Linked DNA regions of Homo sapiens: region 1 is linked to region 2. Evidence: fine-mapped expression QTL. A gene starts in region 2. The other region holds a variant in brackets. All regions are shown on one strand. Distances are from middle to middle.

Region 1 (15,694 bases), 21 kb before region 2:
TTCATACCAGAAAACATGAAAGAAGTAATGAAAACATGCTGAAAAGGATAGATAGTTTTTAAACAGGACCTTAAAAACCAGACTCAATCCCTGCTGCCAAATTCAGTGAGGGATTGTTTAGAGTAAAAACAGAGCATTGCTCTGGGATTGAGCCAACTAGAAAGACTGATACACCATGACGTCTCTGGCTTGTATAACCTCCCTGCCCTTGATGTGAACTCTGGAAGGAAGCAGCACAACCAAAGTTGACAGTGAGGTGAAGAGTGCACCTCCAAGTCATAAAGTACCTAAAACCTCACTATTCAAGTCAACTAGTTGGGAGAAAGATCCATCCAAACTAGTGCAAAGTCCAAATTCCCATTATTTCCAAATAGAAGAAATACTTTTGGATTTAAAAAAATGACAAATGGAATCAAAGTTTTTCCACTTTTTCCAAAAATGCCATTGAAATAATAAAGATATAAAAAGAAAAAAAAATACCAACACTAAAAAAATCAGGAAGAATTCTATGACCCCCAAATAAATGTTGAATTTCTGGAAGATATGAAGCAGACAGGACAAATATAATTCTTGATGTATATTTTTAACATATGTCTAAATATAAATATTTGATTAATGGAGCAAACTGACAAAAAGACAGTTAGTGCCAAGGGTGAGCACTCAACACAGGCAGAAGAGAATAGGGAAGTAAGTAGATAGGTTTCCCCAAAAGACCTATATAAAAAAAAAAATCAGACTTAGCACAGCAACAACATAAAAAGTAGGCTGGGGGAAGCTCAAGAGAATTACACTAAAAGACTTACATTTTAGAATTGTGTCACTGTCTCATATGCTAGACCTACAGACCAGTACTTCTAAATGTGTGAGGCCTGTGAGATAAAAACTATTTTCAAAATAATACTAAGCTGTTATTTGCCTTTTTCACTGTATTGACATTTGTTTTGATAATTGTTGCAGGAAGCCAGGCACCCCGAATGGAGAGACCAGCTGAAGCCGCGGCAGAAGAACAAAAATTGTGAAGATTTAATGGACATTTATCAGTTCCCAAAATTAATATTTTTATAATTTCTTACGCCTGTCTTTACTGCAATCTCTGAACATAAATTGTGAAGATTTCATGGATATTTATCACTTCCCCAATCAATACTCTTATAATTTCTTATGTTTGTCTTTAATCTCTTAATCCCGTCATCTTTGTAAGCTGAGGATGTATGTCACCTCAGGACCCTGTGATGATTGCATTAACTGTACAGATTGTAAAACGTGTGTTTGAACAATATGAAACCAGTGCACCCTGAAAAAGGACAGAATAACAGTGATTTTCAGGGAACAAAAGAGATAATCATAAGGCCTGACTGCCTGCGGGGTTGGGCAGAACACAGCCATATTTTTCTTCTCGCAGAAAGCCTATAGATGGATGTGTGAGTAGGAGAAATATTGCTGAATTCTTTTCCCAGCAAGGAATATTAATAATTGATAGCCCTGGGGAAGGAATGCATTCCTGGGGGGAGGTCTATGAACGCCTGCTCTGGGATTGTCTGTCTTATGTGGTTGAGATAAGGACTGAAATACACCCTGGTCTCCCGCAGTGCCCTCAGGCTTGCTAGGATTGGGAAATTCCAGCCTGGTGAATTCTAGTCAGACCGGTTGTCTGCTCTCAAACTCTCTTTCCTGTTAAGATGTTTATCAAGACAATGCATGCACAGGAGGACATGGACCCTCATCAGTAATTCTAATTTTGCCCTTGCCTTGTGATCTTTTATTGCCCTTTGAAGCATGTGATCCTTGTGACCTACTCCCTGTTCGTACATCTACTCTCCTTCTAAAATCCTAATAAAAACTTGCTGGTTTTGCAGCTCAGGGTCGCCATCACGGTCCTACCAATATGTGATGGCACCCCCAGAGGCCCAGCTGTAAAACTTCTCTCTTTGTACTCCTTCTCTTTATTTCTCAGACCGGCCGACACTTAGGGAAAATAGAATCTACGTTGAAATACTGGGGGGCTGGTTCCCCCAGCAGATAATGCAAAAAAAAATTGTGGTGCAAAAGTAATTGCACCAACCTAATATAACAGAATAACTGAGACTACATGATTTATAAGGAACAGAAATTAATTATCTCACAATTCTGAAAGTTGATCAAGGCATTGGCAGGTGAAGGCCCAGTTTCTCTGCTTCCAAAATGGCACGTGAATGCTGTGTCCTTTGAAGGGGAGGAAGGCCAGGTCCCCACATGGCAGAAGAGCAGAAATGAGAGAAGGCCACTCTCATTCCTGTGAGCCCTTTTATAACATCATTAATCCATACACCTCCCAATACTGTTGCCATAGGGATTAAGTTTTCAACACATGAATTTTAGAGGAAACAATAACATTTAAACCAAAGCAGACACTTAACTGATACTAATAGTCATTATATTCTTTATCGCCAGGTACTCACAGGAGGGGGAAAAAAACTGTTTCACATAAGAATGCCCTGGTGAAGCAGTAAAAATTATTAATGTCATCAAAATCTCAACCTTTGGGTCTTTTAACATTCTGTGTGACCAAATGGGATGTATAAGGCACTTCTATTGAATACCAAAATCTAATGATTATCTCAAGAAAAAGCACTTGTACAATTAATTGTTTGAGCTGCAAGCTGAATTAGCTGCTTTTTTTACGGAACACCATTTTTTTCTTGAAAGAACAAGACATCAAACTACAGTAATTCAGACTTGGTTATCTGTCAGACATTTTCTCAAAAATGAATGAAGTGAGTCTGCAAGAAAAACAACTGGCAGTATTTGTATCCAATGATAACATTCTAGCTTTCAAGCAAAAATTGGAATTTTGGGAAACTTGTATATGCCACTATAAGCTTGACATCATCACAATACTATGACTTTTTTTAATGAAATCAGTGGTAATATTAATGAATGTGGTTTTTGATGCTGTACAAAGAAATGTGTCAACATTTGAAAGATATGCATAATTCAATGAACCAATATTTTCCAAATGGCCAGTGCATCATGGTACAAAATCATGCATGGGTAATAGAAATTTTCAAGGTACAAAATAGGGCACTAGATTTTAACATAATAGACTACATAACTTTCACTGCTGTGGTTTCAGATTCCACATTGGAACCATCCTTTAAGAAACTAGCTAGGACTTGTCCAGTTTTGGTGTAGTATCAAAGAAGATTATCCCCACTTATCTGAAAAAGTTATTATAATACTCCTCCTTTTTTCAAGTACATATCTGTGTAATGCTGGATTTTATTCATATACTTCAACCAAAGCCATATATTGCAATAGACCCATTGCAGAAGCAGATCTGAGAATCCAACTGTTTTCTGTTAAGCAGTCATTAGGGAAATTTGTAAAAATGTAAAACAGTGCTACTCTTTAATTTTCTTGTGTTGAAAAACAGTACTTTTTCATAAAATATGTTATTTATATTTACATGTAGTAGGTTTATTATTGTGTTTTAGGATGTATCAATTCTTAAAAATTTCTCTCATTTCAATTTCTAATACAGCAACTCACAAACAAAAGCCCTTTGAATCTTCAATTTTTAAGCGTGCAAAGTGGTCTTGAGATAAAAAATGTGGAGAATCGGTGCTGTATTTATTCCATGTTTGCCATGGCTAGGGGTAAAAAGGAGATGGGAGGGGTGGAAAAGTGAATATTGATAGTGTCCCAGCTGCAACCCTAGTGGGAGAGTTGCACATCATGGAAGTGACATCCCTTAACTTTATCTGCTACTTGGGTAAATCTCTTCATACCTTTTATGGGGCTAAATTTCTTAGGAAACATGAACATCCCTAAGATCCATCAGTAGATGCTAGAAAGTGATAATTTGAGAGCAGGTTTAGCAGAGAAAATGAAAGCATTCCCATACAACCCACTCAAATGCAGAGCTGCTGGCCCGGCCCCATACAAATTTGAGAAAAGTAGGGAGATCAAATGCATGACCTATAATAAAAAGAAAAGAAAATCGCCTGCTGCCAGTTTTATGGCTCCCTACCCTTAGGCAAACATACCATGAGTTTGTATACCCTGGCAGGTACTTTCTTCCCCTAGCGCCCTAGGATTTACAAGACCTGAGCTGTAAAGATGGTAAAGTACTAATATGTAGGATTTTAAGGCACAGGCAAAGCCTCAGGACAAGCATTTGGATTCTTACAGATGATGATGGTTAAGCATTTAATCACCAAGAGTTCTATGTATTAACCAAGGTTTGGTGCATTTATGGACAAGTTGGTATTGAATTTTTTAAATTTAGATATATATGAATCTGCTACAAGATACATTCTCCTTCAGACTATCACAAATTTTCTTTTCCTTTTAAAAGTGACTTCTTATTTTCAGTGAAGGAAACAAATTATTACTATGTCAGTGATAAGGCCCTTCAGTAAATCAATAATGTTTCAATAAAATTCTGAGAACATGCAAATCATTCTACTAAAATTATCAGTGAAATGGCTTGGCTCTCCAGAAAAATCCAATGTAGTTTCTTTGAAGAGTGATAAAATTACTTTCTCTATCTCAATTCTGGTGACTTAATTTGAAATTTTTAAAAGGGTGTCATTGGTAGAGTTACAGGTCCTAGGAGAATTGGAAAAATGGCAGTCCTAACTGATAACACATTATCTTAGTTTCTTGTATAACTGCCCTCATTTTTCATCTTCATTTTAGTAACTAAGAGTTAGGATTTGAGAACACTTGGGCCAGGTCTGCTATTATCTTCAGCAATCTTTGAAATTCCCACCTCTCCCTAGAGTAGCTAGACAAAATTTTTCAGCAGTCAATGGCAAAAATAAGAGAGATCTGAAATGCAAACACTTTTCACTTCCTCTAGCAATTCCTCTTGCTCCAGAAGAATAGGACTTCACGTGTGTTTATGAAAGAAAAGCGGGCAGAGAAATATTATTAAGGTGAATAAACGGTGGTATTATGTCCATTTCAATGCCAGTATCTTCCATGATCATTCCTGGGCTATAAAGAACACACACCACAGAGCTTGTCAAGGATCCTCGTATCTTCCTCACTAATGTTTTTCTTTTTGCTTTAGGGAAGGAAATCTCCTCTGAGACTTCTTGAAAGATGTAGGAGAGAGAAATGGGTACACTGGTCTCATATGAAAATCTATTCCAACATTCCTATCTCTTTAGCTTTTGGAGTCCTTTCAAATATTATGCAAGAGAAGTTATGGCACCAAACTTCATCGAATGTAGGCCATCAATGAGGCAAAAATTTAGTCATTCCAGAAAGCTATTAGAGCCATTTCTAGCTTTATCTAAAACATTAAATCTAGACTATCTGGTAAATGTTCTTATATCAATATGTTAATCCTGAGACAAAATTATATTCTGTTCCTTTTAGCCTAACACCCTTGTATACTATTCTCACACATATTTTCTTGGTTTTTTCTATATGAATTATCAAAATCCTGCTTTTTTTTTTTTTTTTTTTTTTTTTTTTAGGTATAGGCAATTTATCCCCAGGTCTGAATCTCCATTCTGTTTGAGTATGCTGAGATCTAACTCAAGTTTAGGTCTAGACTAAAAAATAATCAGCAATGGGGATGGGTCTTGAGGATAATAAGTATCCCTTGTAAGGCAGCTGCTTCAGATGAATTGATTATAGAGTTTTCAAGAAGGAAAGGTCAATCTTCTCTGTTGTTTTTGTTTTTGTTTTTTGAGACGGAGTTTCGCTCTTGTTGCCCAGGCTGGAGTGCAATGGCGCAATCTCGGCTCACCGCAACCCGCCTCGGCCTCCCAAAGTGCTGGGATTACAGGCGTGAGCCACCACACCCAGCCTTTTTTTTTTTTTTTTTTTTTCCCGAGACGGAGTTTCGCTCTTGTTGCCCAGCCTGGAGTACAATGGCGTGATCTCGGCTCACCGCAACCTCAGCCTCCCGGGTTCAAGCAATTCTCCTGCGTCAGCCTCCTGAGTAGCTGGGATTGCAGGCATGCACCACCACGTCTGGTTAATTTTGTATTTTTTTAGTAGAGACAAGGTTTCTCCGTGTTGGTCAGGCTGGTCTTGAACTCCCGACCTCAGGTGATCCGCCCTCCCCGGCCTCCCAAAGTGCTAGATGACAGGCGTGAGCCACCGCGCCTGGCAATCTTCTCTGTTATAAGAGGGACTGCTTCTGCTTATTCAGAGGGACCTGGGCATTTAGCTTCATCCAAGTCCAACGCAAGTCTTAGAATCCCGCTTGCTCCCAGTGCCCTGATTGTCACATAAATGACTTGATGAGTCTCTAAATTTAATTTCCATTTTAATTCTGCAACCCACCTAGTTATATTTTTAATAATGTTGATCTTATAGCTATAAGAAATCAGAAACTTTTTTCAAAGTTGCTATAGAAGTTCTCTGTCTCAATTTGACTTGAACTTAGACTTCAAAGTCTTCAATTTGTCACTTTCTGCCTGTAAGGTTTCCAGTGCATAGATGTCATCCCACTCACAGTCCTTGTTGTCATCTGTACTACCACAATGGTAAAATGCAGCAGCCACTTGATCCCTGAAGGCAACTACTTCAATAGGTATTTTTTCCCAAGAAACCATAGATGATACTTTAATTAATCATGATCCTACTTATGTTATAGATTACCAGAATCTTGTTTTCCATTGGCAAGGAACTAAGCATTTCATTCAAGGCCGGCGACATCTACAAATTAATCTCAGAATTTTTGGAGGAGTGGAGACAATGAATATACTATTTTCATAATTAAGTGGTTCTGAGCTGGCATATAATGAGCAGTCCTCTTTATGTCAGTCCAGTCAGAAAAACAAACAAAAAAAAAGCCATACTAGGTATTTCAATGGAGGAAATTTATTTATTACAGGGAAATTGGTTATACAGGCATTAGAGGGCTGAAAAGCAAAATACAAAGGCTGAAAAACCAAAAGTCATCTAGAAATAATAACTTCAGAAAGCAGCTACCACCTCTAGGGCTGGAGGAACAAAAGGAAAAATATGAAGTAACCAGAACTTAGAAGCCCAGAATTGCAACCACAATCTTTGTGGAAGGTAGAACCATCTGGCTGCTGTGGATAATCTCTGAGCGGGTACAGGGGGAATCACTGAGGCTGATTCCAGTAGTGCTGAAAGAAGCTGAAGTGGCACTGCCACTGCTGGGAGAAGTGTCTCTAGGTGAAGAAGCATTGCTGGTCCTGTAAGCAACATTAACAAGAACAGAAAAAACAGGAAGCATATTCTCTCCTTCTGCCTCCCAGTCTCTCTCTAGTGACCCCTATTGGCAGAACTGAACAGGAAGCAAGCTTAAAAAGAAGTCTGAGAAACAGTTTGAGGACAACTAGCCCCATCATTACAGGGAAGAAGAGTACAGAAGGTAGATTTAGAGGTGAGGGGCAATAAGTAAATGACTCGCACAGATGGTGTTCATGCTCAATGTTTCTCTTCTGAACAATTTTCAGATTTGGTGTTAAAGCACCTTCTGGCCAGGCGTGGTGGTTTATGCCTGTAATCCCATCACTTCGAGAGGCGGAGTCGGGTGGGGATTGCTTGAGGCCAGGAGTTCAAGACTACCCTAGGCAACATAGTGAGATGCTCGTCTCTATTAAAAAAAAAAAAA[AG/G]AAAAAAAAAGGGGACCCAAGGCCATATATCTGTTTCATTCCTAGAAACTCTCCACAGTGTCAGATGAAGACTGCAAATCCAGTGGTCCTACATTCACAGATAATTCCTAGCCTAGTAAAAACAGAGAGAAACAGAAATAAACAACAATATTAGTTTGAGTAGCTGGAGAGGATCACAGGAGTAATAATTCTTTGCCCTCCTCTCAACCCCAGAAATTAAAAGAATAATTGTAGTATTTTCATAAATAAGAAGTAGTTTGCTAGTCACTGACTTATATCATAAACGTTAGACACTATAATTCTCAATGTGCCTCAGTTACCACATCTGAAAAAAAATGATGATAATAATATCTACCTCACACCAATCTCTTCAGAAATCTTACAGGGAGACATTACTGTGGATTACATCAAGTTGGCAGGCTAAGTGTCTGTTAAAGATTAGCATAAACCTGATGTCAAAGCTGGAGGACAATAGACCATGAAAACAAAAGAAGAAATCTCTGGCAAGTCTCAATTACAAATATGAATTTTAAAATTATAAATATGTATTACCTAATTAAATCTAACATTATAATATTTTTAAAAATCAATTCATCATGACCCAGTAGGATTTATTCTAAGAACGTCAGGATGCCTCAACATTGGGAAATGTATAATGTAATTAATTACATAAACTCAGATTGAAGGAGAAAATCATGTGTTCATCTTGGTAAATGCTAAAAACAGCATTGTAAAGATTAAATACTTATTTCTAAATTTAAAAAGAGAAACTCCTTAACGAAGAATTATTAGAAGCCTACCTAAAATATCATGCTTTCATGATGAAACACTGGAAGTATTCTTACTAAAGTCAGGAACAAGACAAGGATACCTGCTGTGTCATCTCCAAGTTTAGACTATAAGTTGTAGACAATGAGATTTGATAAGAAAAGTAATTAAGAGGTACCAACATGAGAAAGGGAAATATTATTTACAGCTGAAATTTTAGAACTAATAAGATATTTAGTAAAGAATGGGCAAATACAAGATCAACACACAAATTTGTGGAAATATACAACCCTCCTAGATTCAATCAGGAAGAAATAGAAACCTGGAACAGACCAATAACAAGCAGTAACAATGAATCAGTAATTTTTAAAAATTGCAACAAAAATAAGTCCAGGACCAGATGGATTCACAATTGAATTCTATCAGACATTCAAAGAAGAATTGGTACCAATCCTACTGAAACTATTCCAAAAGTGGAGAAAAAGGGAATCCTCCCTAAGTCATTCTGTGAAGCCAGTATCATCCAAATACCAAAACCAGGAGACGACTTAACAAAAGAAAACTACAGACCAGTATCCCTGATAGACATAGATGCAAAAATCCTAAAAAACAAAAACAAAAAACTAGCTAACTAAATCCAATCACATATCAAAAGATAATACATCATGATCAAGTGGGTTTCATACCAGAGATGCAGGAATGATTTAATGTATACAAGTCAGTAAATGTGATATACTACAGAAACAGAATTAAAAACAAAAAAGCAGAAAAAGCATTTTAGAAAATCCAGTATCACTTTATGATAAAAACTCTCAACATAGAAGGGACATAACTCAAAGCAATAAAAGCCATAGACGACAAACTCACACTGAACATAATACTGAATGGGGAAAAGTTGAAAGCATTCCCCCGAGAACTGGAACAAGACAAAGATGCCATTTTCACTGCTTCTATTCAACATACTACTGGAAGGCCTGGCTAAAGAAATCAGACAAGAGAAAGAAATAAAGGGCATCCAAATAGAAATACAGGAAATCAAACTGTTGCTGTTCACTGACAGTATGATCATATAACTAGAAAACCCTAAAGACTCATCCAAAAATCTCCTAGATCTGATAAACGAATTCAGTACACTCTTTGGATACAAAATCAATGTACACAAATCAGTAGCACTGCTATACACCAACAACCAAGCTGAGAATCAAATCAAGAACTCAATCCCTGTTACAACAGCTGCAAAATACAATACAATACTCAGGAATATACTTAACCAAGGAGGTGAAAGATCTGTACAAGGAAAACTATAAAACATTGCTGAAGGAAGTCATAGATAACACAAACAAATGGAAACACATGCCATACTCATGAATGAGTAGAATCAATATTGTGAAAATGACCATACTGCCTAAGGCAATTTACAGATTCAATGCAATTCCCACCAAAATGCCATCATCATTCTTCACAAAACTAGAAAAAACAATTCTTAAATTCATATGGCACCAAAAAAGAGCCCATACAGGCAAAGCAATACTAAGCAAAAAGAACAAATCTGGAGGCATCACACTGCCTGACTTCAAATTATACTATGAGACTACAGTTACCAAAACAGCATGTTACTGGTATAAAAATAGGCATGTAGACCAATGGAACAGAACAGAGAATCCAAAAATAAGACCAAATGCTTACAGCCAACTGATCTTTGACAAAGCATACAAAAACACAAACTGGGGAAAGGATACTCTATTCAATAAATGGAGCTGGGGAAACTGGCAAGCCACCTATAGAGAATGAAACTGGATCCTCATCTCTCAGCTTACACAAAAATCAATTCAAGATGGATCAAAGACTTAAATCTAAGATCTGAATAAAAATTCTAGAGGATAACATCAGAAAAACCCTTCTAGACATTGGCTTAGGCAAGGAATTCATGACTAAGAACCCAAAAGCAAATGCAACAAAACAAGAATAAATAAATGGGACCTAATTAAACAAAGAGCTTCTGCATAGCAAAAGAAATAATCAACATAGTAAGCAGACAACTCACAGAGTGGGAGAAAATATTTGCAAACTATGCATCCAACAAAGGACTAATAACCAGAATCTATAAGGAACTCAAACAAAGAAAAAAAAATAAGCCTATTGAAAAATGGGCAAGGAACACGAATAGAAAATTCTCAAAAGAGGATATACAGGCTGGGCGTGGTAGCCTGTAATCCCAGCACTTTTGGAGGCTGAGGTAGGTGAGTCACTTTGAGCTCAGGAGTTCAAGACCAGCCTGGGCAACAAGGTGAAAACCTATCTGTACAAAAATTAGCCAGGTATGGTGGCTCATACGTGTAGTCCCAACTACTCAGGAGGCTGAGGCTAGAGGATCACTTGAGCCCAGAAAGCAGAGGTTGCACTGAGCTGAGATCACACCACTGCACTCCAGCTTGAGTAACAGAGCAAAACCCTGTCTCAAAAAAAAAAAAAAAGGAGGCAATAAACATATGAGAAAATGTTCAACATCACTAATTATCAGGAAAACACAAATTAAAACCACAATGAGATACCACTTTAATCCTGCAAGAATGGGCATAATTTAAAAGTTAAAAATCAATAGATGTTGGTGTGGGTATGGTCAAAAGGGAACACTTTTACACTGCTGGTGGTAATGTAAACTCGTACAACCATTAAGGAAAACAGTATGGAGATTCCTTAAAGAACTAAAAATAGAACTACCATTCAATCCAGCAATCCCACTACTGGGTATCTACCCAAAGGAAAACAAGTCATTATATGAAAAAGACACATGTACACACATTTATAGCAGCACAACTCGCAACTGCAAAAATGTGGAACCAACCTAAGTACCCATCAACCAACCAGTGGATAAAGAAATATGGTGTATATATACACCATGGAATACTACTCAACCATAAAAAAAAAATGAAATAATGTCTTTTGTAGCAACTCAGATGAAGCTGGAGGCCATTATTCTAAGGTAGGTAACTCAGGAATGGAAAACTAAATATCACATGTTCTCACTTATAAGTGGGGAGGAGCTAAGCTAGGAGGATACAAAGGCATAAGAATGAATTAACAGAATTTTGAGACTTGGGGTGGGGGAAGGGTGGGAGGGAGATAAAAGACTACATATTTGTTACAATGTACACTGCTCAGGTGGCAGATGCACCAAATCCCAGAAATCACCACTAAAGAACTTGTCCTGTACTCCAAAAACTATTTAAATGTTTTAAAATTAAAACTTTTAAAAAAAGATCAACACACAAAATTCAGTAACTAGGGACTTTCATCTGCCCATACTGGCAGAGTACCTTGGTTATACTAACCCTCATTTAGATAACAATAATAAAATCTGGAAAAAAAATTAAAATTACTTAAAGGCACTGGAGGCTGGGTGTGGTGGCTCACACCTGTAATCCCAGCACTTTGGGAGTCTGAGGGGGGCAGATCACCTGAGGTCAGGAGTTCAAGATCAACATGGTGAAACACTGTCTCTACTAAAAACACAAAAAATTAGCCGAGCATGGTGATGCATGCCTGTAATCCCAGCTACTCGGGAGACTGAGGCATGAGAATTGCTTGAACCCAGAAGGCAGGGTTACAGTGAGCCAAGATCATGCCACTATACTCCAAACTAGGCGACGGAGCGAGACTTCATCTCAAAAATTAATAATAAAATAAAATAAAGTGCCTGACAGATAAGTAAGTGCTTAATAAGGCAACAAGGGGAATTGCTTACGGCCAGGAGTTGGAGACCAGCCTGGGCAACATAGCAAGACCCTATCACTATGAAAAATAAAAACGTAGCCAGGCCTGGTAGTGTATGCCCATAGTCCTAGCTACTTGGGGGACTGAGGCAGATGGATCCCTTGAGCCCAAGACTTTGAGGCTGCAGCGAACTATGCACTCTAGCCTGGGTGATAAAGATAGACCCTGTCTCAAACCACACACACAAACACAAAACATGACACCTCCAAAGGAACACAATAATTCTCTGATAACAGATCTGAAAGAAAAGGAAATTTATGAAATGCTTGAAAAGAACAGAGAAACTCAGTGAGTTACAAAAGAACACAGGTAAAAAATAGAAATCAAAGAAACAATTTATGATCTGAATGAAAAATTCAACAATGCAATAGATATCATTTAATAAAAAACAAACAGGTGGCCGGGTGCGGTGGCTCACGCCAAAGTAATCCCAGCACTTTGGCAGGCCGAGGCGGACGGATCACGAGGTCAGGAGATCAAGACCACCCTGGCTAACATGGTGAAACCCCGTCTCTACTAAAAAATACAAAAAAATTAGCCAGGTGTGGTGGCGGGCGCCTGTAGTCCCAGCTACTCAGGAGGCTGAGGCAGGAGAATGGCATGAACCCGGGAGACGGAGCTTGCAGTGAGCCGAGATCGCGCCACTGCACTCCAGCCTGGGCGACAGAGCGAGACTCCGTCTCAAAAAAAAAGAAAAAAGAAAAAACAAACAGAAATCCTGGAACTGAAGAATTTGATGAATAAAATAAAAAATACTATAGACAACTTCAACAATAGACTAGATTAGGCGTAAGAAATAATTTCTGGCTGGGCACATTGGCTCATGCCTGTAGTCCTAACACTTTGGGAGACCGAGGTGAGCAGATCACTTGAGGTAAGGAATTCGAGACCAGCTGGGCCAACATGGTGAAACCATGTCTCTACTAAAAATACAAAAATTAGCTGGGCGTGGTGGCACACACCTGTAGTCCCAGCTACTCAGGAGGCTGAGGCAGGAGAATCACTTGAACCCAGGAGGCGGGGGTTGCAGTGAGCTGAGATTGCACCACTGCACTCTAGCCTGGGTGATAAAGTAAGACTCCATCTCAGAAAAAAAGAAAGGAAGGAAGGAAGGAAAGAGAGAAAGAGAGAGAAAGAAAGAAAGAACGAAAGAAAGAGGAAGGGGAGGGGTAAGGGGAAGGGGAAGGGGAGGGAATTTCTGAACTTGAAGACAACTCGGAAAAAAAAAATGAAGAAAGCCTACATAACATATAGAACACCACAAAGTGACCAAATGTTCAAATTCTGGGAGTTTCAGAAGGAAGAGAAACGAGCAAAGGCATAGGAAATCTATTTAACAAAATAATAGCTGACAACTTCCCAAGTCTGGCAAGAGATTTAGACATCCCAGATACAGCTCAGAGATCCTCAAATAGATTCAACCCAAAAAGGTCTTCTTCAAGACATATTATAGTCAAACTATCAAAAGTCAAAGACAAAGAGAATTCTAAAAAGAGCAAGATAAAAGCATCAAGTCATGTATACGGGAATCCCCATCAGACAAACAGCAGATTTCTCAGCAGAAACTTTACAGGCCAGAAGAGAATACAATGGTATGTTTAAAGTGCTGAGAGAAAAACACTACCAGCCAAAAATACTAAACCTAGCAAAGATATCCTTCGAAAATGAAGAGAAATAAAATGCCAGACAAGCAAAAACTGAGGGAATTCATCACCACTAGACTGGTCCTACAAGACAGGCTTAAGTCAGTCCTATATCTGAAAGCAAAAGGACAATATTTGCCAACAAGCAAACCCATGCAAATGTAAAACTGGTACAGTAGATATATAAATAAGAAAGAGAAAGAAGTCAAACATTACTGCTACAGAAATCCACTAAACCTCAATGGTAAACAGTAAAAGAGGAAGAAAGGGACCAAGGATATACAGACAAGCAGAAAACAACAAAATGACAGAAATAAGTTCTCACATATCAATAATAACTTTTGTTTTTTGTTTGTTTGTTTGTTTGTTTGTTTTTAGACAATCTCACTCTGTTGCCCAGGCTGGAGTGCAGCAGCCTGTTCTCGGCTCACTGCAACCTCTGCCTCCCAGGCTCAAGCAATCCTCCCGCCTCAGCCACCTGGGTAGCTGGGACTACAGGCACACACCACCATGCCTGGCTAATTTTTGTATTTTTTGTAGAGATGAGGTTTTGCTAAGACATCCAGGCTGGTCTCAAACTCGTGGACTCAAGCAATCTTCCCACCTCAGATAAAGAATAATGTTATCTCCATTATCTGGCAAAAGGCATTACTAAATTGGATGCCCAATTAAAAAAAGAAATGTTGATGAAAGTGAACAAATAAAATGGAATAGGGAGTTTCCTACCACTCATTGATTGTTATGGTACCAGTTGAATTAATATATTACATTAACAGTTGCATTACATCAAAAAAACTATATGATTATCTCAACAGATGTAGATAAGTATTTGATCCCCTCACAATAAAAACTCTCAACAAATTAGGCACAGGAGGAACATACCAAAACATACTAAAGGCCATATATGACAAACCCACAGCTAATCTACTCAATGAGAAAAGCTGAAAGCCTTTCCTCTAGGAACTAGAAGACAAAAATTCTCACTTTCACCACACTTATTCAACATAGTACCGGAAGTCCTACCCAAGCAATCATGCAAAAGAGAGAAATAAAAGGCATCCAAATTGAAAAAGAGGAAGTGTGGCCAGGACCATGGCTCACACCTATAATCCCAACACTTTGGGAGGCCAAGGTGGGCAGATCAGCCGAAGTCAGGAGTTCGAGACCAGCCTGGCCAACATGGCAAAACCCCGTCTCTACTAAAAATACAAAAATTAGCCAGGTGTGGTGGCATGTGCCTGTAATCCCAGCTACTCAGGAGGCTGAGGCAGTAGAATCACTTGAACCTGGGAGGCAGAGGTTGCAGTGAGCAGAGATCGCGCCATTGCACTCCAGGCTGGGCAACAAGAGTGAAACTCTCTCTCAGGAAAAAAAAAAAAAAAAGTAAAAGAGGAAGTCAAATTGTCCTTCTTTGTAGACAACATGATCTTATATATAGAAAAACCTAAAGATGCCACCAAAAAACTTTTAGGACCAATAAATGAAATCAGTAAAGTTGCAGAATACAAAATCAACATACAAACATCAGTAGCATTTTTATATACCAATAACAAACTAGCTGAAAAACAAATCAATAAAATAATCCCATTTACAATAGCTACAAACAAAATGCCTAGGCATAAATTTAGCCAAGGAAGTGAAAGACCTCTACAAGGGAATCTATAAATCACCAATGAAAGAAATTGAAAAGGACACAAAAAAATGGAAAGACATCTCATCCTTATGAATTGGAAGGATTAATATTGTTAAAATGGCCATACTACTCAAAGCAATTTACAGATTCAATGCAAGCCCTACAAAAATACCAATTACATTCTTTACAGAAATAGAAAAAAAAAATCCTGGGCTGGGCGCGGTGGCTCATGCCTATAATCCCAGCACTTTGAGAGGCTGAGGCAGGTGGATCACAAGGTCAAGAGA
Region 2 (15,694 bases):
TTAAATAAATCAACTGGGAAACTATGCACCTATTAAAAAGAAAGATTTACATGCTGACATGAAAATTTCTTCAAGGCATATTGATAAGGCCAAAATATTATAAATATTTTATAAATTGTGGAATAATTTATAAAATATATCAGTCATATACACTAATATATATACATATACATCTGGATATATAAAAAACAATTAACTGTGGTTACCTTTGGTTAGTGAGGAGAATGGGATGGGAGGACACAAAATGAGAACTTTTTTGTGGTATGCTCAATTCTGCAAGTAATAAAAATATCACAATAAGAATGATTTCTTGTGAAATGTTTGTAATTACAGTTTTTTGTTATAGACTACATACTACATAGGAGGCACGCAAAGCCCCGAAGTAATGATACTGCATAAATCCAAGGCACTGATATTATCGTACTCATTATTATTGTCAGCGTTCTTATCCTCCACAGCTATCAACACTGATATGCCTTTCATCAGAGAAATTTAAACAAGATTTACAAATAGAAGTTCATTTAATCACAGAGCACACCTTTGAGGCAAGGCTATAATTCCAAAATACAGACATAATAAATGACTTGCTTAGAGTCTCAAACAAGTCAGGAAATGATCCAGAGCCAGGATTCCACTCTCGTACAAATAAATATATATACTGGCTCTCAGCACAGTGCTATAAATAACCCCATCTGCTGGCATTTCAGTTTCTCCCCAAGTAATTGAGTGTTTAAATGACCTGTAAACCTTCACTTTGGCTTTAAAAATTGTCTATATCTAGCATTCTTTTTAAAGGGATGGCTTTTAAAAGTTTAACATCAACCTTCCCGAGAAAGTTAAGGGAGTAAGATTAATTTTCACCTTCTGTAAGAGGGCAACTCTGGAAGAACATACTATTTTTCCAAATGACAGTTCTGACTATATTATTTAGCCCAAGATCAATAACTTAGCAGAAGTACTTTGTAACTGCATTATCCCAATCCTGAAAACTTTCTTAAGAAAAGGAAGTATAAAAGACACTGATCTGAATCAGGAAAACTGATCCAAGCACTGTCTATTCCAAAAACTGTATGTTGCATATAGTTTTGCATAAACCCATCAACTTCTCTAAACCTGAGATTCCTCATTCCTTGTAAATAGGGATAAGAATACCTCCCTGCTTAATTAAATAAGTTGTCTCAAGTTTCAAATGAGAGAGAGATTGTGAAGGTACTCTGTATGTTCCAGACAAATGATTATTAATGGACCAGGTGCAGTGGCTCACACCTGTAATCCCAGTACTTTGGGAGGCCAAGGTGAGCAGATCACTTGAGCTCAGGAGTTTGAGCCCAGCCTGGGCAACACGGTGAAACCCCATCTTTACCAAAAATACAAAAAAAAAGCTGGGAGTGGGGGTGGGCACCTGTAGTCCCAGCTACCAGGGAGGCTGAGGTGGGAGAATCACTGGAGCCCAGGAGGCGGAGGTGGCAGTGAGCCAAGATTGTGCCACTGCACTTCAGCCTGGGCGACAGAGTGAGACCCCATCTCAAAAAAATTATTTTAATTAAATTATTATTATTTGAAACTTGGGTTCTCAATACAAGTAAACCTGTCCTTCTCCCCGAAAATATGAGAAAGTGTCTGATTTGTAATATTCAAGCCTCTCAATTTGGGGCCCAATAATTAGTTTATTTTCTAGACCAATAGTTTCAACTACAGGGTTTAGAAAAGGAGTATATGACATTTATTTGTGAGGTGTGTCATGATTTCATGATTTAAAGTAACAAAGTAATTAGCCTTTTATAAATCAAAGAGAATTACACTAGAGATGTTGCAATATCTGCCACAGTTCTTTTCTGAGTGAACTGCCCTCCTTCACCTTCTGCTGTACCTGCTGTACACACCAATCCTGACTTTTTCTTTTTTTTGAGACGGAGTCTCACTCTGTTGCCCAGGCTGGAGTGCAATGGTTCAATCTCAGCTCACTGCAACCTCTGCCTCCTGGGTTCAAGTGATTCACCTGTCTCAGCCTCCTGAGTAGCTGGGACTACAGGCGTGCACCACCACACCCAGCTAATTTTTGTATTTTTAGTAGAGACGGGGTTTCACTATGTTGGCCAGGCTGGTGTCAAACTCCTGACCTCAGGTGATCTGCCTGCCTCGGCCTCCCATAGTGCTGGGATTACAGGCATGAACCACTGCGCCTGGCCTTTTTTTTTTTTTTTTGAGACAGTCTCGCTCTGTCACCCAGGCTGGAGTGCAACAGTGTGATCTCAGCTCATTGCAACCTCCACTTCCTGGGTTCAAGCAATTCTCCTGCTTCAGCTTCCGGAGCAGCTGGGATTATAGGCTTGCACCCCATCATGCCCAGTTAATTTTTGTATATTCCTGCTCTTTTTTTTAACCACAACCAGATCTGGATTAAAAGGTAAGCAGTTGGGGCGTTGCCCAAATCATTTATCTGAAAGGGGCACTGAAATATCACTGGAATAATCAGTAACTATAGAGCCAATTAACATTTGCATAGGCAAATTCTTACACAAGTAGAGGAATATAAATTTTTTCCTGCTTCAGGGAAGTGGAAACTAAAAACAGTAGTATTAATCTTTCAATCTAAATAACAGAGGGAGGCTCTCTAGAAGAAAACGATGTTTATTTGGGAATACAGCATTCCAGTGGGAATATGTGTGCCATAGTAAACTATGTGCACATTCAGGGAGGTAAGGGAAGACAAAGGTTTTTAAAGGAAAAAATGTGGAGGATTATAATAATTATTTTGAGATAATTATCTTTGGCTACAAAGATCAGTAACAAGGGTGACAGCAGCCCAAGACTGCACAGGGAGTTGCTGGGGAGATGTCCTTGAAGAACTATTTTTTGTCTAAGATTTTGACAGCGTTTGTGCAAGGTTGTGGTTTTGCAGTGTTTTGTGACAGTTTTTGTTAGCAGGCATCTGTGCATGAGAATCCTCTTAATGGCCTTCCTGGGTTCTATTTGTCTGGGTTTTTTTGTTTGTTTGTTTTTTTCCCCCACACTAGTGACTCTATCTTGATTCTGACAATTTTCACAAACCTAAGAGTTACTGGATTTGTTTTTGTTGTTGTTTGAGACAGGGTCTTGCTATGTTTCCCAGGCTGGTCTGGAACTCCTGAATGGCATAAAATGTTACAAGGGATTGCATCTGAAGAAGGAGCCAAGAAATGTTTTTTTGTTATTGTCTATAATATTTTTAGTTCTACTTGAATTTTTAAACTCTATGCTTGCATTGCTTGGATAAAAATTAAAATCAAAACAAAACAACAAAAAGAATACCTCAAACTTGGGCCTTTAAGCCAGAACAAGTAAACTACACATCACAAGATCACTAGCTAAGGAGAGGGAGCTCCAGACATTCCTGTCCATAGTTGCCTTACTTCCCACCTAGCACTGTCACTGTGTAACATTGAAAACAAATTTTAAAAGCAAAAACAGTTTTGGGTCAGTGTGGTGGCTGGCTCATGCCTGCCACCCCAGCACTTTGGGAGGCAGAGGCGGACAGATTGCCTGAGCCCATGAGTTTGAGAGCAGCCTGGGCAGCATAGCAAGACCCTGTCTCTGTAAAAAGTAAAAAAGAAAAGCAAAACCAGTTTAATGAAAACCTTAAATGCCCAGTTAAAGAGTTGATCATGCCAAAAAGGGGATAACTTTGAGTAAAAAAATGACTTTAGGCTGGGTACAGTAGCTCATACCTGTAATCCTAACACTTTGGGAGGCTGAGGCAGGAGGATCACTTGAGCCCAGGAGTTCAAGACTACCCTGGGCAACATGACGAGACCTCATCTCTACAAAAAATACAAAAATTAGCCTGGTGTGGTGGTGGTGGTGCGTGCCTGTAGTCCTAGCCACTCGGGAGGCTGAGGTGGGAGGATCACCTGAACCCAGGAGGTTGAGGCTGCAGTGAGCCATGATGGCATCACTGCACTCCAGCCTGAGCAACAGTGAAACCTCATCTCAAAAAAAAAAAAAAAAGACTTTAATGTCTGTATTTTAGATAAAGTGCTTTTCTGTGTGTAGGATAAATTTGATAGAGATTGTCTGGTAGCTAAGAGATTGGTTAAGGAAATTGATAGTAAGCCCAGAGTGATGGCAGAAGAATTGGAGAGAAAAGTTGGTCTTAGAGATTAGAACAATGGAGGACTTTTTCTTGTTATTATTATTTTATGTATTATTTATGCATTTATTATTTTTATAGAGATGGGGTCTTGCTATGGTGCCCTGGTGTCAAACTCCTGGGCTCAGGCAATCCTCCTGCCCTGTCCTCCCAAAGTGCTAGGATTACAGGCATTGGCCACCATGCCTGGCCAAGGACTTCTTGGTGGCTGATCAGGGTCCTTTTTAATGGTAAGGCTCAGCCTCCTTACCTAATACATTACTGTAATATTATTCACAATAGTTTTCTGCCTAATATAAATCAAGTATGCACATAAACACAGTTTGTAGTTCCCACAACCAGCATCACACCTAATCCAGGTTCTGCCACTAATTAGTTCTTGGAACTGGGGCAAGTTATTTACCTCTTTGTGCTTAATTTCCTTATCTGTAAAATAAGGTTAATCAACTGATAAAATTGTTGTGAACAGTAAAAGACTTAATAAATTTACAAGTGTATAGGCCAGGCCTGGTGGCTCATACCCGTAATCCCAGCACTTTGGGAGGCCAATGCGGGTGACTCGTTTGAGGCCAGGAGTTTGAGATCAGCCTAGCTAACATGGCAAAACCCCATCGCTATAAAAAAATACAAAAATTAGCCAGACACGGTGGCATGCACCTGTAGTCCCAGCTACTCAGGAGGCTGAGGTGGAAAGATCATTTGAGCCCGGGAGGTTGAGGTTGCACAGAGCTAAGATCGTGCCACTGCACTCCAGCCTAGGCAACAGAGTGAGACCCTGACTCAAAAAAACAAAAACAAAAACAAAAAAAGCGTATACAATAGCTCCCCGGCCTACATTATGTATTCAATAAATGCTAGCTATGTATTACTGGTCTGAGTTCTACATTGTCTGTATTTTTTCTTATCTGTCCCATCAACATTCTGTAATAATTTGACAAAACGATTACAAAAAAAGTTAAGTTTCATGAACTTTAATTATGAGACACTTCAGATTTGGGGCCCTATATTAATCCATTCTCACACTGCTATAAAGAAATACCGAGACTGGGTAATTTATAAAGGAAAGAGGTTTAATTGACTCAGCTGCACATGCCTGGGCGGCCTCACAAAATTTTCCAATCATGGAGGAAGGGGAAGCAGGCACGTCTTACAGGGCAGGTCTTACATGACGGCAGGTGAGAGAGAGCATGTGAGACCACAGGAAAAACTACCATTTATAAAACCATCAGATCGTGTGAGAATTCACTTAACTATCAGAACAGCATGGGAGAAAACGTCCTCATAATCCAATCACTTTAATCCTTCCATACGTGGGGATTAAAATTCGATATAAGATTTGGGTAGGGACACAGAGTCAAATCATATCAGGACCTAATTCCTAAACTTTAGATGTACTTATTTAAACACTATTCTGCCTAACAGTTTAATATTTTGGGTTTTCCCTCTTCATGAAGATGTAAACAAGATGTGTAAAGATTGGTTTGGGAGCCCATGGCAAGGACAGGAAAATCAAACACATGTTCTCACTCATAGGTGGGAATAGAACAATGAGAACACCTGGACACAGGGTGGGGAACATCACACACCAGGGCCTGTCGTGGGGTGGGGGGAGGGGGGAGGGATAGCCCTAGGAGATATACCTAATGTAAATGACGAGTTAACGAGTGCAGCACACCAACATGGCACATGTATACATATGTAACAAACCTGCAAGTTGTGCACCCTAGAACTTAAAGTATAATAATAAAAAAAATAAAAAATAAAAAAAGATTGGTTTGGGAGCACATATGTAAAAGGTTTTTCTAAAATATGAAACACGAAAATATATTATTCCAATATTATTCTGAAGCCAGACAACTCCCGCAATGACAAAATCCCTTGCTCTTCAAGCGCGACTGTACCCCCTTCCCAAAAACGATTTATGCATTTATGGTTAAAGTTCAAATGAAGCTGATTTAATAGAAATAATTTAAAAATAATAATGAGAATATATGGACAGCTTACTATAGGGTGAGATGATGTTGTAATTGACTTTAAAACATTTGGAACTAAATGTCAGTCCTAGGAAATTATGCACTCCTGTAAATTGTGCTATTAAGGGTTAGGTTTCTTTCAACACTTTAGATATTTGATCAGAAGCATATTTAAGAAAAACGAAAGCTGCCCTTGCTTTTGACCCCAAGTTGAGAATTTTCTATCATTGGTGCAGTGCCTGAAAATACGATCCAATCTTCATTTAGTCATTTGTACGGAGTCTGGAAAGGCTAAAACATTGCAAATAATAGGACCTACTCGTACTTTCCCCGCTTAAGAAGCGTATCTATTTCAAGGTGCCTATTTGGAAAAACAGACTCCAGGTCTCCACCACAGAACTTAACACAAAATGAAAGCACACAACCCGCAGCCTTTGGCTGTGGTGTTTTTGAAAACAAGGAAGGGCACAGAACCATGGCTTAAAATACCCGAAAGCTGCAGCCCACAAAAAGAGTATTTCAGGGCGGGTTGGCCGTTCCCTGCAGGCAAACGTTCGGTGCAGGCGGCCGGGCGTTCCTGCGGGGAGGGCGCCACTGTGATGCAAAGACATCAAGCGGACTTTCAGCTTGCCCGTGGACGCTGCGGTGCCGCTTTCCCTATCCAGTCCTGTTCCCGCGGCTCCCCAGCCTACCCCGGGCCGACCAAGAGGTCCGGCGGGGTCTGCGCCGCATCAGCGCCCGCTCGTCAGGCCTAGCCCTCCGCACAGCCAAGGCCGACCAGACCTCTAGACACTCCGTCGTCGGGTGTGGGGCGGAGAAGTAAAGGGCGAGTTTTCTTCCTAGATTCCAGTGGGAACCAAGAAAAGGAGTTGGCAGCTGTGTAAACTGGACCTGGGGTGCGGCCTCCGGGAACAAAAGAGGTGATAAATGCACAGCAGCCGAGGTTCTGCGTGCTCCTTTGGGGCCACTACGAATCCCCGTGAATCACCCCAGCCCGGGCAGAGGGCCAGAAATGATGAAAATGCAGATTCATGGCTTCCACTCCAGCCCTACAAGATCACCAACCGTATCTGGCAGTACCCAGGAATCTGCATTCTCGACAAGCGTCCGCGCCGACGGGGCTAGTGAAGTTTGAGAACAATTGCTTCCTACCCAGCCGCTCCGCTATCACCTAGGTAGCACGGCCGCTGCGGCTGAGGCTGTGACTGCGGCTGCGGCTGGGCCGCGCCTCAACCGAGCTTGGTCCTTTCCTTTGGTCCCGCCCCGCTGCTCAGCGCGGATTGGTGGCGGGACGCAAATCTGGCGCTGATTGGGCGGCGGCAGAGTCGCTCGTGAAGATTGTAGGGTTCGGGTGCTCTAGAGTGCTAAATTTATCTTCAGACCGGCGACCGCGCCAGCCGCGAATCGGATCTCTATGGAGATGGCCTAGGCGATATCCCTGAGCTGAGAGCATCACCCTGTCCCCGAATCCTTCTTTCCTCTCTGTTTTGTTTTTCATTCCCCTCCCTCTCTCCCCTCCCCCTCCAGTCCACGACGACTGGCTGTTGACCCTGTTCAGGCCTCGGTGAAGGTGAGAAGCAGAGCCGCCGCCGCGGCTAAGCGGTGCGCTCTGAAATGGCCGCTTCCTGGAACTGCCTAAGATGGCGGTCGCGGGCTCTGCTGTGGACCGCGGCGCTGCTGTGCAGCCCAGCCGCGGCAAAATCCGTTCTCTCCATCGCTGATGGAGATGAAATAGAGAGATGGTGTTGGGTGCTGAGACGTTTTCATGTGGTCGTTAGCGCAGGCGGCCGCCCGGGGACGCGAGAGAAGACCTGAGGCGAGGGTGGGCTGCGACTGGTAGGGAGCCCCCCAGTCGTGGCAATCTGTGGGCAGCGCGCACCTGTGACAGGGAGGAGCTGAGGGATAGTTGGCCCTGGCTGCACATCCAGGTGACCGTTTAAAAAAGCATTTAGGTGTTGGAAGGAGCATCTGTTCCCACCTTTTTGGCTGGCCTGCACTCAGATCCTGTCCTCCTGACCCTGAGGGTATTGTTCCCAGCCGGAACCGCCCGAAGATAGGGGAGAAAGGATTGTGATACTTGTCAGTTTAACCGGAAGGAGACTAAAGACGGAAGTTTTCCCCGCTCTTCAGGGAGTGGAAAGGAAACTTTACTCTCAAAGGAGTCCAGATTCTTTGTCCTCGAGAAATTCGGGGAAACACCTTCGAAGAGGTGGGGTTGAGGACCTTCTTTCTGAAAACAAAAGCTTCCTACTCTTCTGTGTCCTCTGGCAACGAGAGGGATCCTGATCTTTTACGTGAACCAGCAGCTCCACAGAGTTCTCCGTTGCAAAATCCAAAAGGAGACTGTGGAAGGAGAATCTGCTTTTTTGCTCCCAATAAGAAGCAGGGCTTTATGCTGTTGCTAGTATGAGACCCTCGACTTTCTGGCAGTTATAATCCATTGTTCATCCGTTTCGCTGCATAACCCAACTCCTAGTAACGAGATTTTTTAGTAGTTGGGGAATTAAAAGTATTCAGGAACACCCAAGTAATGGCTAGACACATGGGCTATGCAGTCAAACTTTTTGGGCTCTGAACTTGGTTTTTCACTTACAAGAGGTGTTAGCGAGATGTGTTAACCTGTGTCTGTTTATCTCTAAAGTGGGGTTATTAATAATCCTTGTGTCTTCATAGATGAGATAATCTATATGAGGGATTTAGCAGTAATTGGCATACAGTAAACAATCATCAGTCATTAGACATTGTTTACCTGAGGAGATTGGTCACTGGGGGGCTAAAAATGATTGTAGTGAAAGAACTGCTTCATGTAATAGTTCTATGTATAATTCCATTTTAGATTCAAGACCTAGTTTTAGAGACATTGATGAGGTTGTACTTTTAAAAATTAGGCTTAGTTTCAAGTTCTAGAAAGTGTGGTGGTGGTGTTGTTTTAACATGTTTCTATGAAGTCAGTAGGTGGGGGAACATCTCAAAGCATCTAAATTGCCAAGATATTGAACAGGATGAAAATGTTAGAATTTTTACTATGCTAGGCGTCTTCTCTTTCAGTCCAAGATCTGCATTGCAGTAAAGAATCATTTTCACTGCTTAGATCCAGAAAGAATAAACCCATCTTACGGGTTTATAGTTAGTTCTGCTTGTTACTGTATCTAATTTTAATTTTTCTCATTCTAGGCTTTTGGTTACTCCCCTTCCCACCCCATCCCTTAATTTTATTCTTTTGAAGAGTGCATTTCAAGCTGCCAAGGTGGAGAGAGGGATTACAGAAAGGAGAACACCTTATTTCAGGTATCTTATCCTCTACCCCTTAATAGGAGAACCATTTTGACTCAAGATCTAACATGAGAATACAAAACTTACTCTATAGCCAGGTTATAAAGTTTAAATCAAAAGTAGCTATATTTGGACAGACATAATTTGTATGCCTTGATTTATAGAGTTAATAGTATTCTTTAGCAATCCTTAGATTGCATTATCCTTTTAATTTTGATTTGTTTTATTATATGAGAAATAAACCTCTTAAATGAGAGTTTATTTTTTTTTTTTAGGTCCTGGTTAAGTCGTCACCTGTTGTATAAATAGAATGCAGAGTTATCTGTAAAAATATACATTACTTTCATTGAGTCTTAATTTGGATAATATAAACGTTTATATAATTTAAGTCCAGAGAAACAGTACCTAACTTTTGATATACAATTTATTCTTCATTGTTAACGCATAACATTTAGGATACAGTAGAATTATGTATCTCGCAAAACTTGGAACTGTGTGTGTGTTTAATTCACTTCTTCAGAATTGTTGCTAGCCCTGAAGGGACTTCAGATATATAATAGTATCAACAACTAATACATCTAATGACAGTAGGCATCAAAAGCTAAAAGAGATTTCACAATACTACATACCATGAGACAGGGCTGATAAATTATGGCCCATGCTGTCTGGTTTTGTACGTAAAGTTTTATTGGAACACACCTGTGTCCATTCTTTCATGTATTGTCTATGGCTGCTGTCATGTTACAACTACAGAGTTGAGTAGTTGCAACAGAGACTATATGGCCCTTGACCAAAAAAAGCCTGCCAACCCCTGCCATGGGACATATTCTTCAGGGTCCCTTTCTTAAAAATATGTATAACAACTCTTAATAATTTATTGGCTCAGTGATTCCCAAATTATGTTTTATAGAATATTAATATTCTCTAAGTTAATAAATGTTTTGAGAAAATGATTGATGCTAATATTGGTTTTTCTTTATGGTTGATTTTAATATGTTTATTTAAATATGAGATTAAGACTGCTAAACTCATTTCTATAGCTTTTATTTTTATGTGATAATCTACCTTTAAGAAAAGGTGTACCATACCTGAGAGCACCAGGAAGTCGCATGAGAGATCACCTGATACATGAACGTATGATGTTCCATCTGCGCATTGATGAATAGGCAGCATTTACAAATTAACTGATGTGTTGCTGTATATCATCTCTTTGATGATTGCTCCTCTTCTTTGTATCCTGTCTTATAATTTCAACACATTTGCGATACTCAATGTCTATTCTAAATTAACCATGTTTTGTACCACAAACTCATTGCCCATGGATCTGTTGCTGAAACAAGGAAGTCTTAAACAAGAAGTGGAATCTTTCTGTTATCAGATTGTGTCTGAATCAAATGATCAGAAGGTTGGAATATTACAAAGTGAAGATAAGCAGTTGCAACCTTCAGTTTCTAAAAAATCAGAAGGTGAGCTTTCCAGGGTCAAATTTATATCCAATTCCAACAAAATAACATTTAGTAAAAAACCAAAAAGAAGAAAATATGATGAAAGTTATTTGTCTTTTGGATTTACTTACTTCGGAAATAGAGATGCACCTCATGCTCAGTGTGTATTATGTAAGAAAATTTTATCAAATAGCTCTTTAGCCCCTAGTAAGCTTCGAAGACATTTGGAAACTAAACATGCTGCATATAAAGACAAAGACATAAGCTTTTTCAAGCAACATCTCGATTCACCTGAAAATAATAAACCCCCAACACCTAAAATTGTGAATACAGATAATGAAAGTGCTACAGAAGCATCATACAATGTAAGTTACCATATAGCGCTGAGTGGAGAGGCTCATACTATTGGAGAATTGCTTATCAAACCTTGTGCAAAAGATGTAGTGATGCGGATGTTTGATGAACAATATAGTAAAAAAATAGATGCAGTACAGCTATCAAACAGTACTGTTGCACGTCGAATTAAGGATCTAGCTGCTGACATTGAAGAAGAGCTTGTTTGTAGACTGAAAATTTGCGATGGGTTTTCACTGCAACTAGATGAATCAGCTGATGTTTCAGGACTTGCTGTGCTGCTTGTGTTTGTTCGTTATAGGTTTAATAAGTCTATTGAGGAAGACCTACTCCTGTGTGAATCTTTGCAAAGTAATGCTACCGGTGAAGAAATATTCAACTGTATCAACAGTTTTATGCAGAAACATGAAATTGAATGGGAAAAATGTGTTGATGTTTGTAGTGATGCTTCTAGGGCAGTGGATGGGAAAATTGCCGAAGCTGTCACCTTAATAAAATATGTGGCTCCCGAAAGCACCAGTAGTCACTGCCTATTATACAGACATGCACTGGCAGTTAAAATAATGCCTACATCTCTAAAAAATGTGCTAGACCAGGCAGTACAAATCATCAATTATATTAAAGCTCGACCACATCAATCCAGACTATTAAAAATTTTATGTGAGGAAATGGGTGCTCAGCACACAGCACTTCTTCTAAATACAGAGGTGAGGTGGCTTTCTCGAGGTAAAGTTCTTGTAAGACTTTTTGAACTTCGTCGTGAACTTTTGGTTTTCATGGATTCTGCTTTTCGACTATCTGATTGTTTAACAAATTCATCTTGGCTGCTAAGACTTGCATATCTTGCAGATATTTTTACTAAATTAAATGAAGTTAATTTGTCAATGCAAGGAAAAAATGTGACCGTTTTTACAGTATTTGATAAAATGTCGTCATTGTTAAGAAAATTGGAATTTTGGGCCTCATCTGTAGAAGAAGAAAACTTTGATTGTTTTCCTACACTCAGTGATTTTTTGACTGAAATTAATTCTACAGTTGATAAAGATATTTGCAGTGCCATTGTGCAGCACCTAAGGGGTTTGCGCGCTACTCTGTTAAAATACTTTCCTGTAACAAATGACAATAATGCTTGGGTTAGAAATCCATTTACAGTTACTGTTAAACCAGCTTCATTAGTAGCACGGGACTATGAGAGCCTGATTGATTTAACATCTGATTCTCAAGTGAAGCAAAATTTTAGTGAACTTTCACTAAATGATTTTTGGAGTAGCCTAATTCAGGAATACCCAAGCATTGCAAGGCGTGCAGTGCGTGTACTTCTTCCTTTTGCTACAATGCACCTGTGTGAAACGGGGTTTTCATATTACGCTGCAACAAAAACAAAATATAGGAAAAGACTTGATGCTGCACCTCATATGCGAATCCGACTTAGCAATATTACACCTAATATTAAGCGGATATGTGATAAAAAGACACAAAAACACTGTTCTCATTAAAATTGGAGGAGTTTGCATGTCTCATGATAACCAAATGTAAGATGAAAATAAAAGATGATTTACTTCATCTCTGGTATTTGGGGGATTTAAATAAAATGATTCCATTTTTTTATACTATTTAGATTTTAAGAAGGCTAAAGAATCAAACGTTTTAAACATATTGTGTTATTATTGGTATTTCTTTACATTGTAATTTTAAAGAGTTCCATGATCATAACTGGGAAATAATGATCCCCAAGATAAAGTCCCAGTCCCTTAACATATCTCTTCAGGATCTAATCCCTACCAATCTTTCCGTGTCTACTCTGCAGCTCTCCAATCCCATGGAACTTCTTGCCATTCCCTAAACATATCACACTGTTTTATCGTTTCAGGTCTCAAAAAGCGATTCTGTCCCCATCTTACTTTCTGGTAGGCTCCTATTTGCTTCAACACTTTGACTTGTAGGTACTTTCATTCTCTGTATCTTCCTATTTTGATGCTGTTTCACACTTGTATTTAATGTTTGTGTCTGTCTCAACTGTGAACTCCTTGATGGTCTCACGGTTCCCAATGTTTTCAGACTAAGCTCTTAGAGAGTCTTATTGAGTCTTATCCAAATCTGTGTCTCCATAATCTGGAAAAAGGCTTTACTAAATTAGATGCTCAGTAAAGGAAAAACATGTTGGTGAAAGTGAACCAACAAAAAATGGAATGGGGGATTTCCTACATTCATTGATTGGTATGGTAGCAGGTGTACACACTGCTACCCTTTGGGTTTTTTGGCTCACTTACTCTATTAACTAGAGTTCAGTGTGGCCATTATGCAGAGGTCATCGAGGAATGTCATAGTTTTATGATTCAGGCTGAACTATTGAGGGAGAGGGGATGAAGTGTGAAGAGTATTTTCAGATACTTTGTTTTTTTCTCAGTTCCTATATAGATTATTGTAAATTCCACATGCAGTATAAATTAATGAGACTTTACTGTAGTCAGAGATGCTTAGACCAGAAATCAGTTTGTTCTTATAATACTGTAAAAATTTCCTGACTGAATTTCCTGTCTCTGGGCTACTTTTCCTACATCACGTCATGCAACACAGTTCACCAACTCAGTGTTAAATATTTGTTACTCCTGTAGTCAAGAACTACTGTAGATAACCATTATTTAATCTCATTTATTGAAACTTCCATTTTAGGGAGTAAAGGTACCACCCCCCACCATTAAGGCAGAATGTGGTAAAATGACTAGGTTCAAGTACCTACTTTACTTTGTAATGTACGGTAATCTGAACTTGAACCTCAGTTGTTTCATCTATAAAATTACAATTACGCCTCCTTTGAAGGGTTGTTATCAAGATTAAATGTGAATGTATAAATATAAAGCTCCTAACAGTTGATGATCAGGAGTAGGTGTACAGCATATATTAGTTCTCTGCCATATCCAACTATGTTCCAGTTAAAGTTGAGTCTACACTTCACACTTCTAATCTGGATTTTTATTCTCTGGAGACTCAACAGTTTACTAGACCATGGGACATTTCCTGATCCAAGGCAACAAGATTACATACTTCTAGCCCAGGTTTTTCCTCCTTGTTGCCTTATTAAGCACTTATTTGTCTGTGAGGAACTTTATTTTATTTATTTATTTTTTGAGACAGAGTCTTGCTCTGTCACCCAGGCTGGATTACAGTGGCGCGATCTTGGCTCACTGCAACCTCTGCCTCCCAAGTTCAACCAATTCTCATGCCTCAGCCTCCGAAGTAGCTGGGATTACAAGTGTGCACCACCACCCCCAGCTAATTTTGTTTGTGCTGGAGTAAAGTGGCGTGATCTCACCTCACTGCAACTTCAGTCCCCACCCCCCGCCCGCCCCCCATCCCCCAGCGATTCTCCTGCCTCATCCTCCCGAGTAGCTGGAATTACAGGCACGTGCCACCACACCCAGCTAATTTTTGTATTTTTAGTAGAGACGGGGTTTCTGCATGTTGGCCAGGCTGGTCCCGAACTCTTGATCTCAGGTGATCCACCCGCCTCGGCCTCTCAAAGTGCTAAGATTGCAGGCATGAGCCACCACAGCTGGCCTAATTTTTGTATTTTTAGTAGAGACGGGGTTTCACCATGTTGGCCAGGCTGACCTTGAACTCCTGACCTCAGGTGATCCGCCCACCTAGGCCTCCCAAAGCACTGGGATTACCGATGTGAGCCACTGCGCCCAGCCTGTCAGGCACTTTAATAGTTGCTTTGTATTTATCTATAATCTTTACAACAATCTTATGGGATTCAGTCATTTTTGGACTTGACCTAGGTCATAGGTAATTAGCAGGATTTAGTTTAAAGTAAGTCTTTCCCAAATACAGAGCTTTTTCCCATCATTGCCTTCTGAACTTTTCTAAGACAAACAGTGACTTGGAAGTACAGCCTGAAACTGCCTACTAGAATCTGGACATTTCTTTGAAGTCTTGTGTTTACTTCTAAATTCACCGAAATTGGCTAATTTAAAATATGACTAATTTTCATGTAAAATATAGAGTAAATTGCTGTCAACTACTAATTCCTTAGAAGATGTATCATAATTTCTTATATATGCAATGCTTTTTATTTACTAGTCCCAGAATTATACCCTAGTTTGAGAAGGATGTGCAGTTCCTTAATATCTGTGTCCAGCATATACCTCAAGCCTGGTAACTAGACTCCTGCGATTGCTGAGTTCGAGCCCTTCATTAGATTATTTGTCCAAGATGTCAGCCTCTTAAAATATAAAACCATTCTTGTTTTCCAGTCCTTTTCCCCTAACCTCCTTGGAGACTAGATTCCTGCTCTTAAGTCCAAGTCCATTATCTGAGACCCTGCTGTCTGCTACTAGACCTTTTTAATGCTGACCGTACCCATTTTGGTTCTTGATGCCAGCTGTTCACCTCATCTGTAACGTATCAGGACTAAATTATGGATACCATGCACAGCTAGTGAGAATGGACTTTTAGTACGTGAAGGTGGGTCTGGTGGACAACAGACAAGTCGAGTTCCAGATAGCAACTAGTTCTAG

Direction of the effects. Positions count from the first base shown, and alleles are read on the strand shown. Sizes are in standard deviations (SD) of each study's normalised expression.
With allele AG in place of G in region 1, the expression in prefrontal cortex of the gene that starts at base 7,317 in region 2 is higher (small effect, 0.26 SD a copy in BrainSeq).

Evidence for each region.
Region 1: its variant is fine-mapped to the expression of ZBED5-AS1 in prefrontal cortex (BrainSeq, PIP 0.95).

The regions. Positions count from the first base shown.
Region 1 is chr11:10,870,388-10,886,081 of GRCh38, reverse strand. ZBED5-AS1 (ZBED5 antisense RNA 1) reads right to left here. Exons shown (of 3, transcript NR_034137.1): 3 at 6,806-7,701. It overlaps LOC124902629 (a long non-coding RNA gene), which reads left to right. Exons shown (of 2, transcript XR_007062588.1): 2 at 958-1,923. Among named protein-coding and RNA genes, the nearest start is that of ZBED5-AS1, 20 kb to the right of the region's middle. The variant AG/G (reference allele first, on the strand shown) is at 7,589.
Region 2 is chr11:10,849,840-10,865,533 of GRCh38, reverse strand. ZBED5-AS1 (ZBED5 antisense RNA 1) reads right to left here and starts at 7,317. Exons shown (of 3, transcript NR_034137.1): 1 at 7,168-7,317; 2 at 207-273. It overlaps ZBED5 (zinc finger BED-type containing 5), which reads left to right and starts at 7,481. Exons shown (of 3, transcript NM_001143667.2): 1 at 7,481-7,672; 2 at 9,277-9,390; 3 at 10,448-12,828. The coding sequence starts at 10,589. The coding sequence ends at 12,670. RefSeq lists enhancers at 6,009-6,644, 7,046-7,135, 6,645-7,282, 7,436-7,815 and a silencer at 15,465-15,665.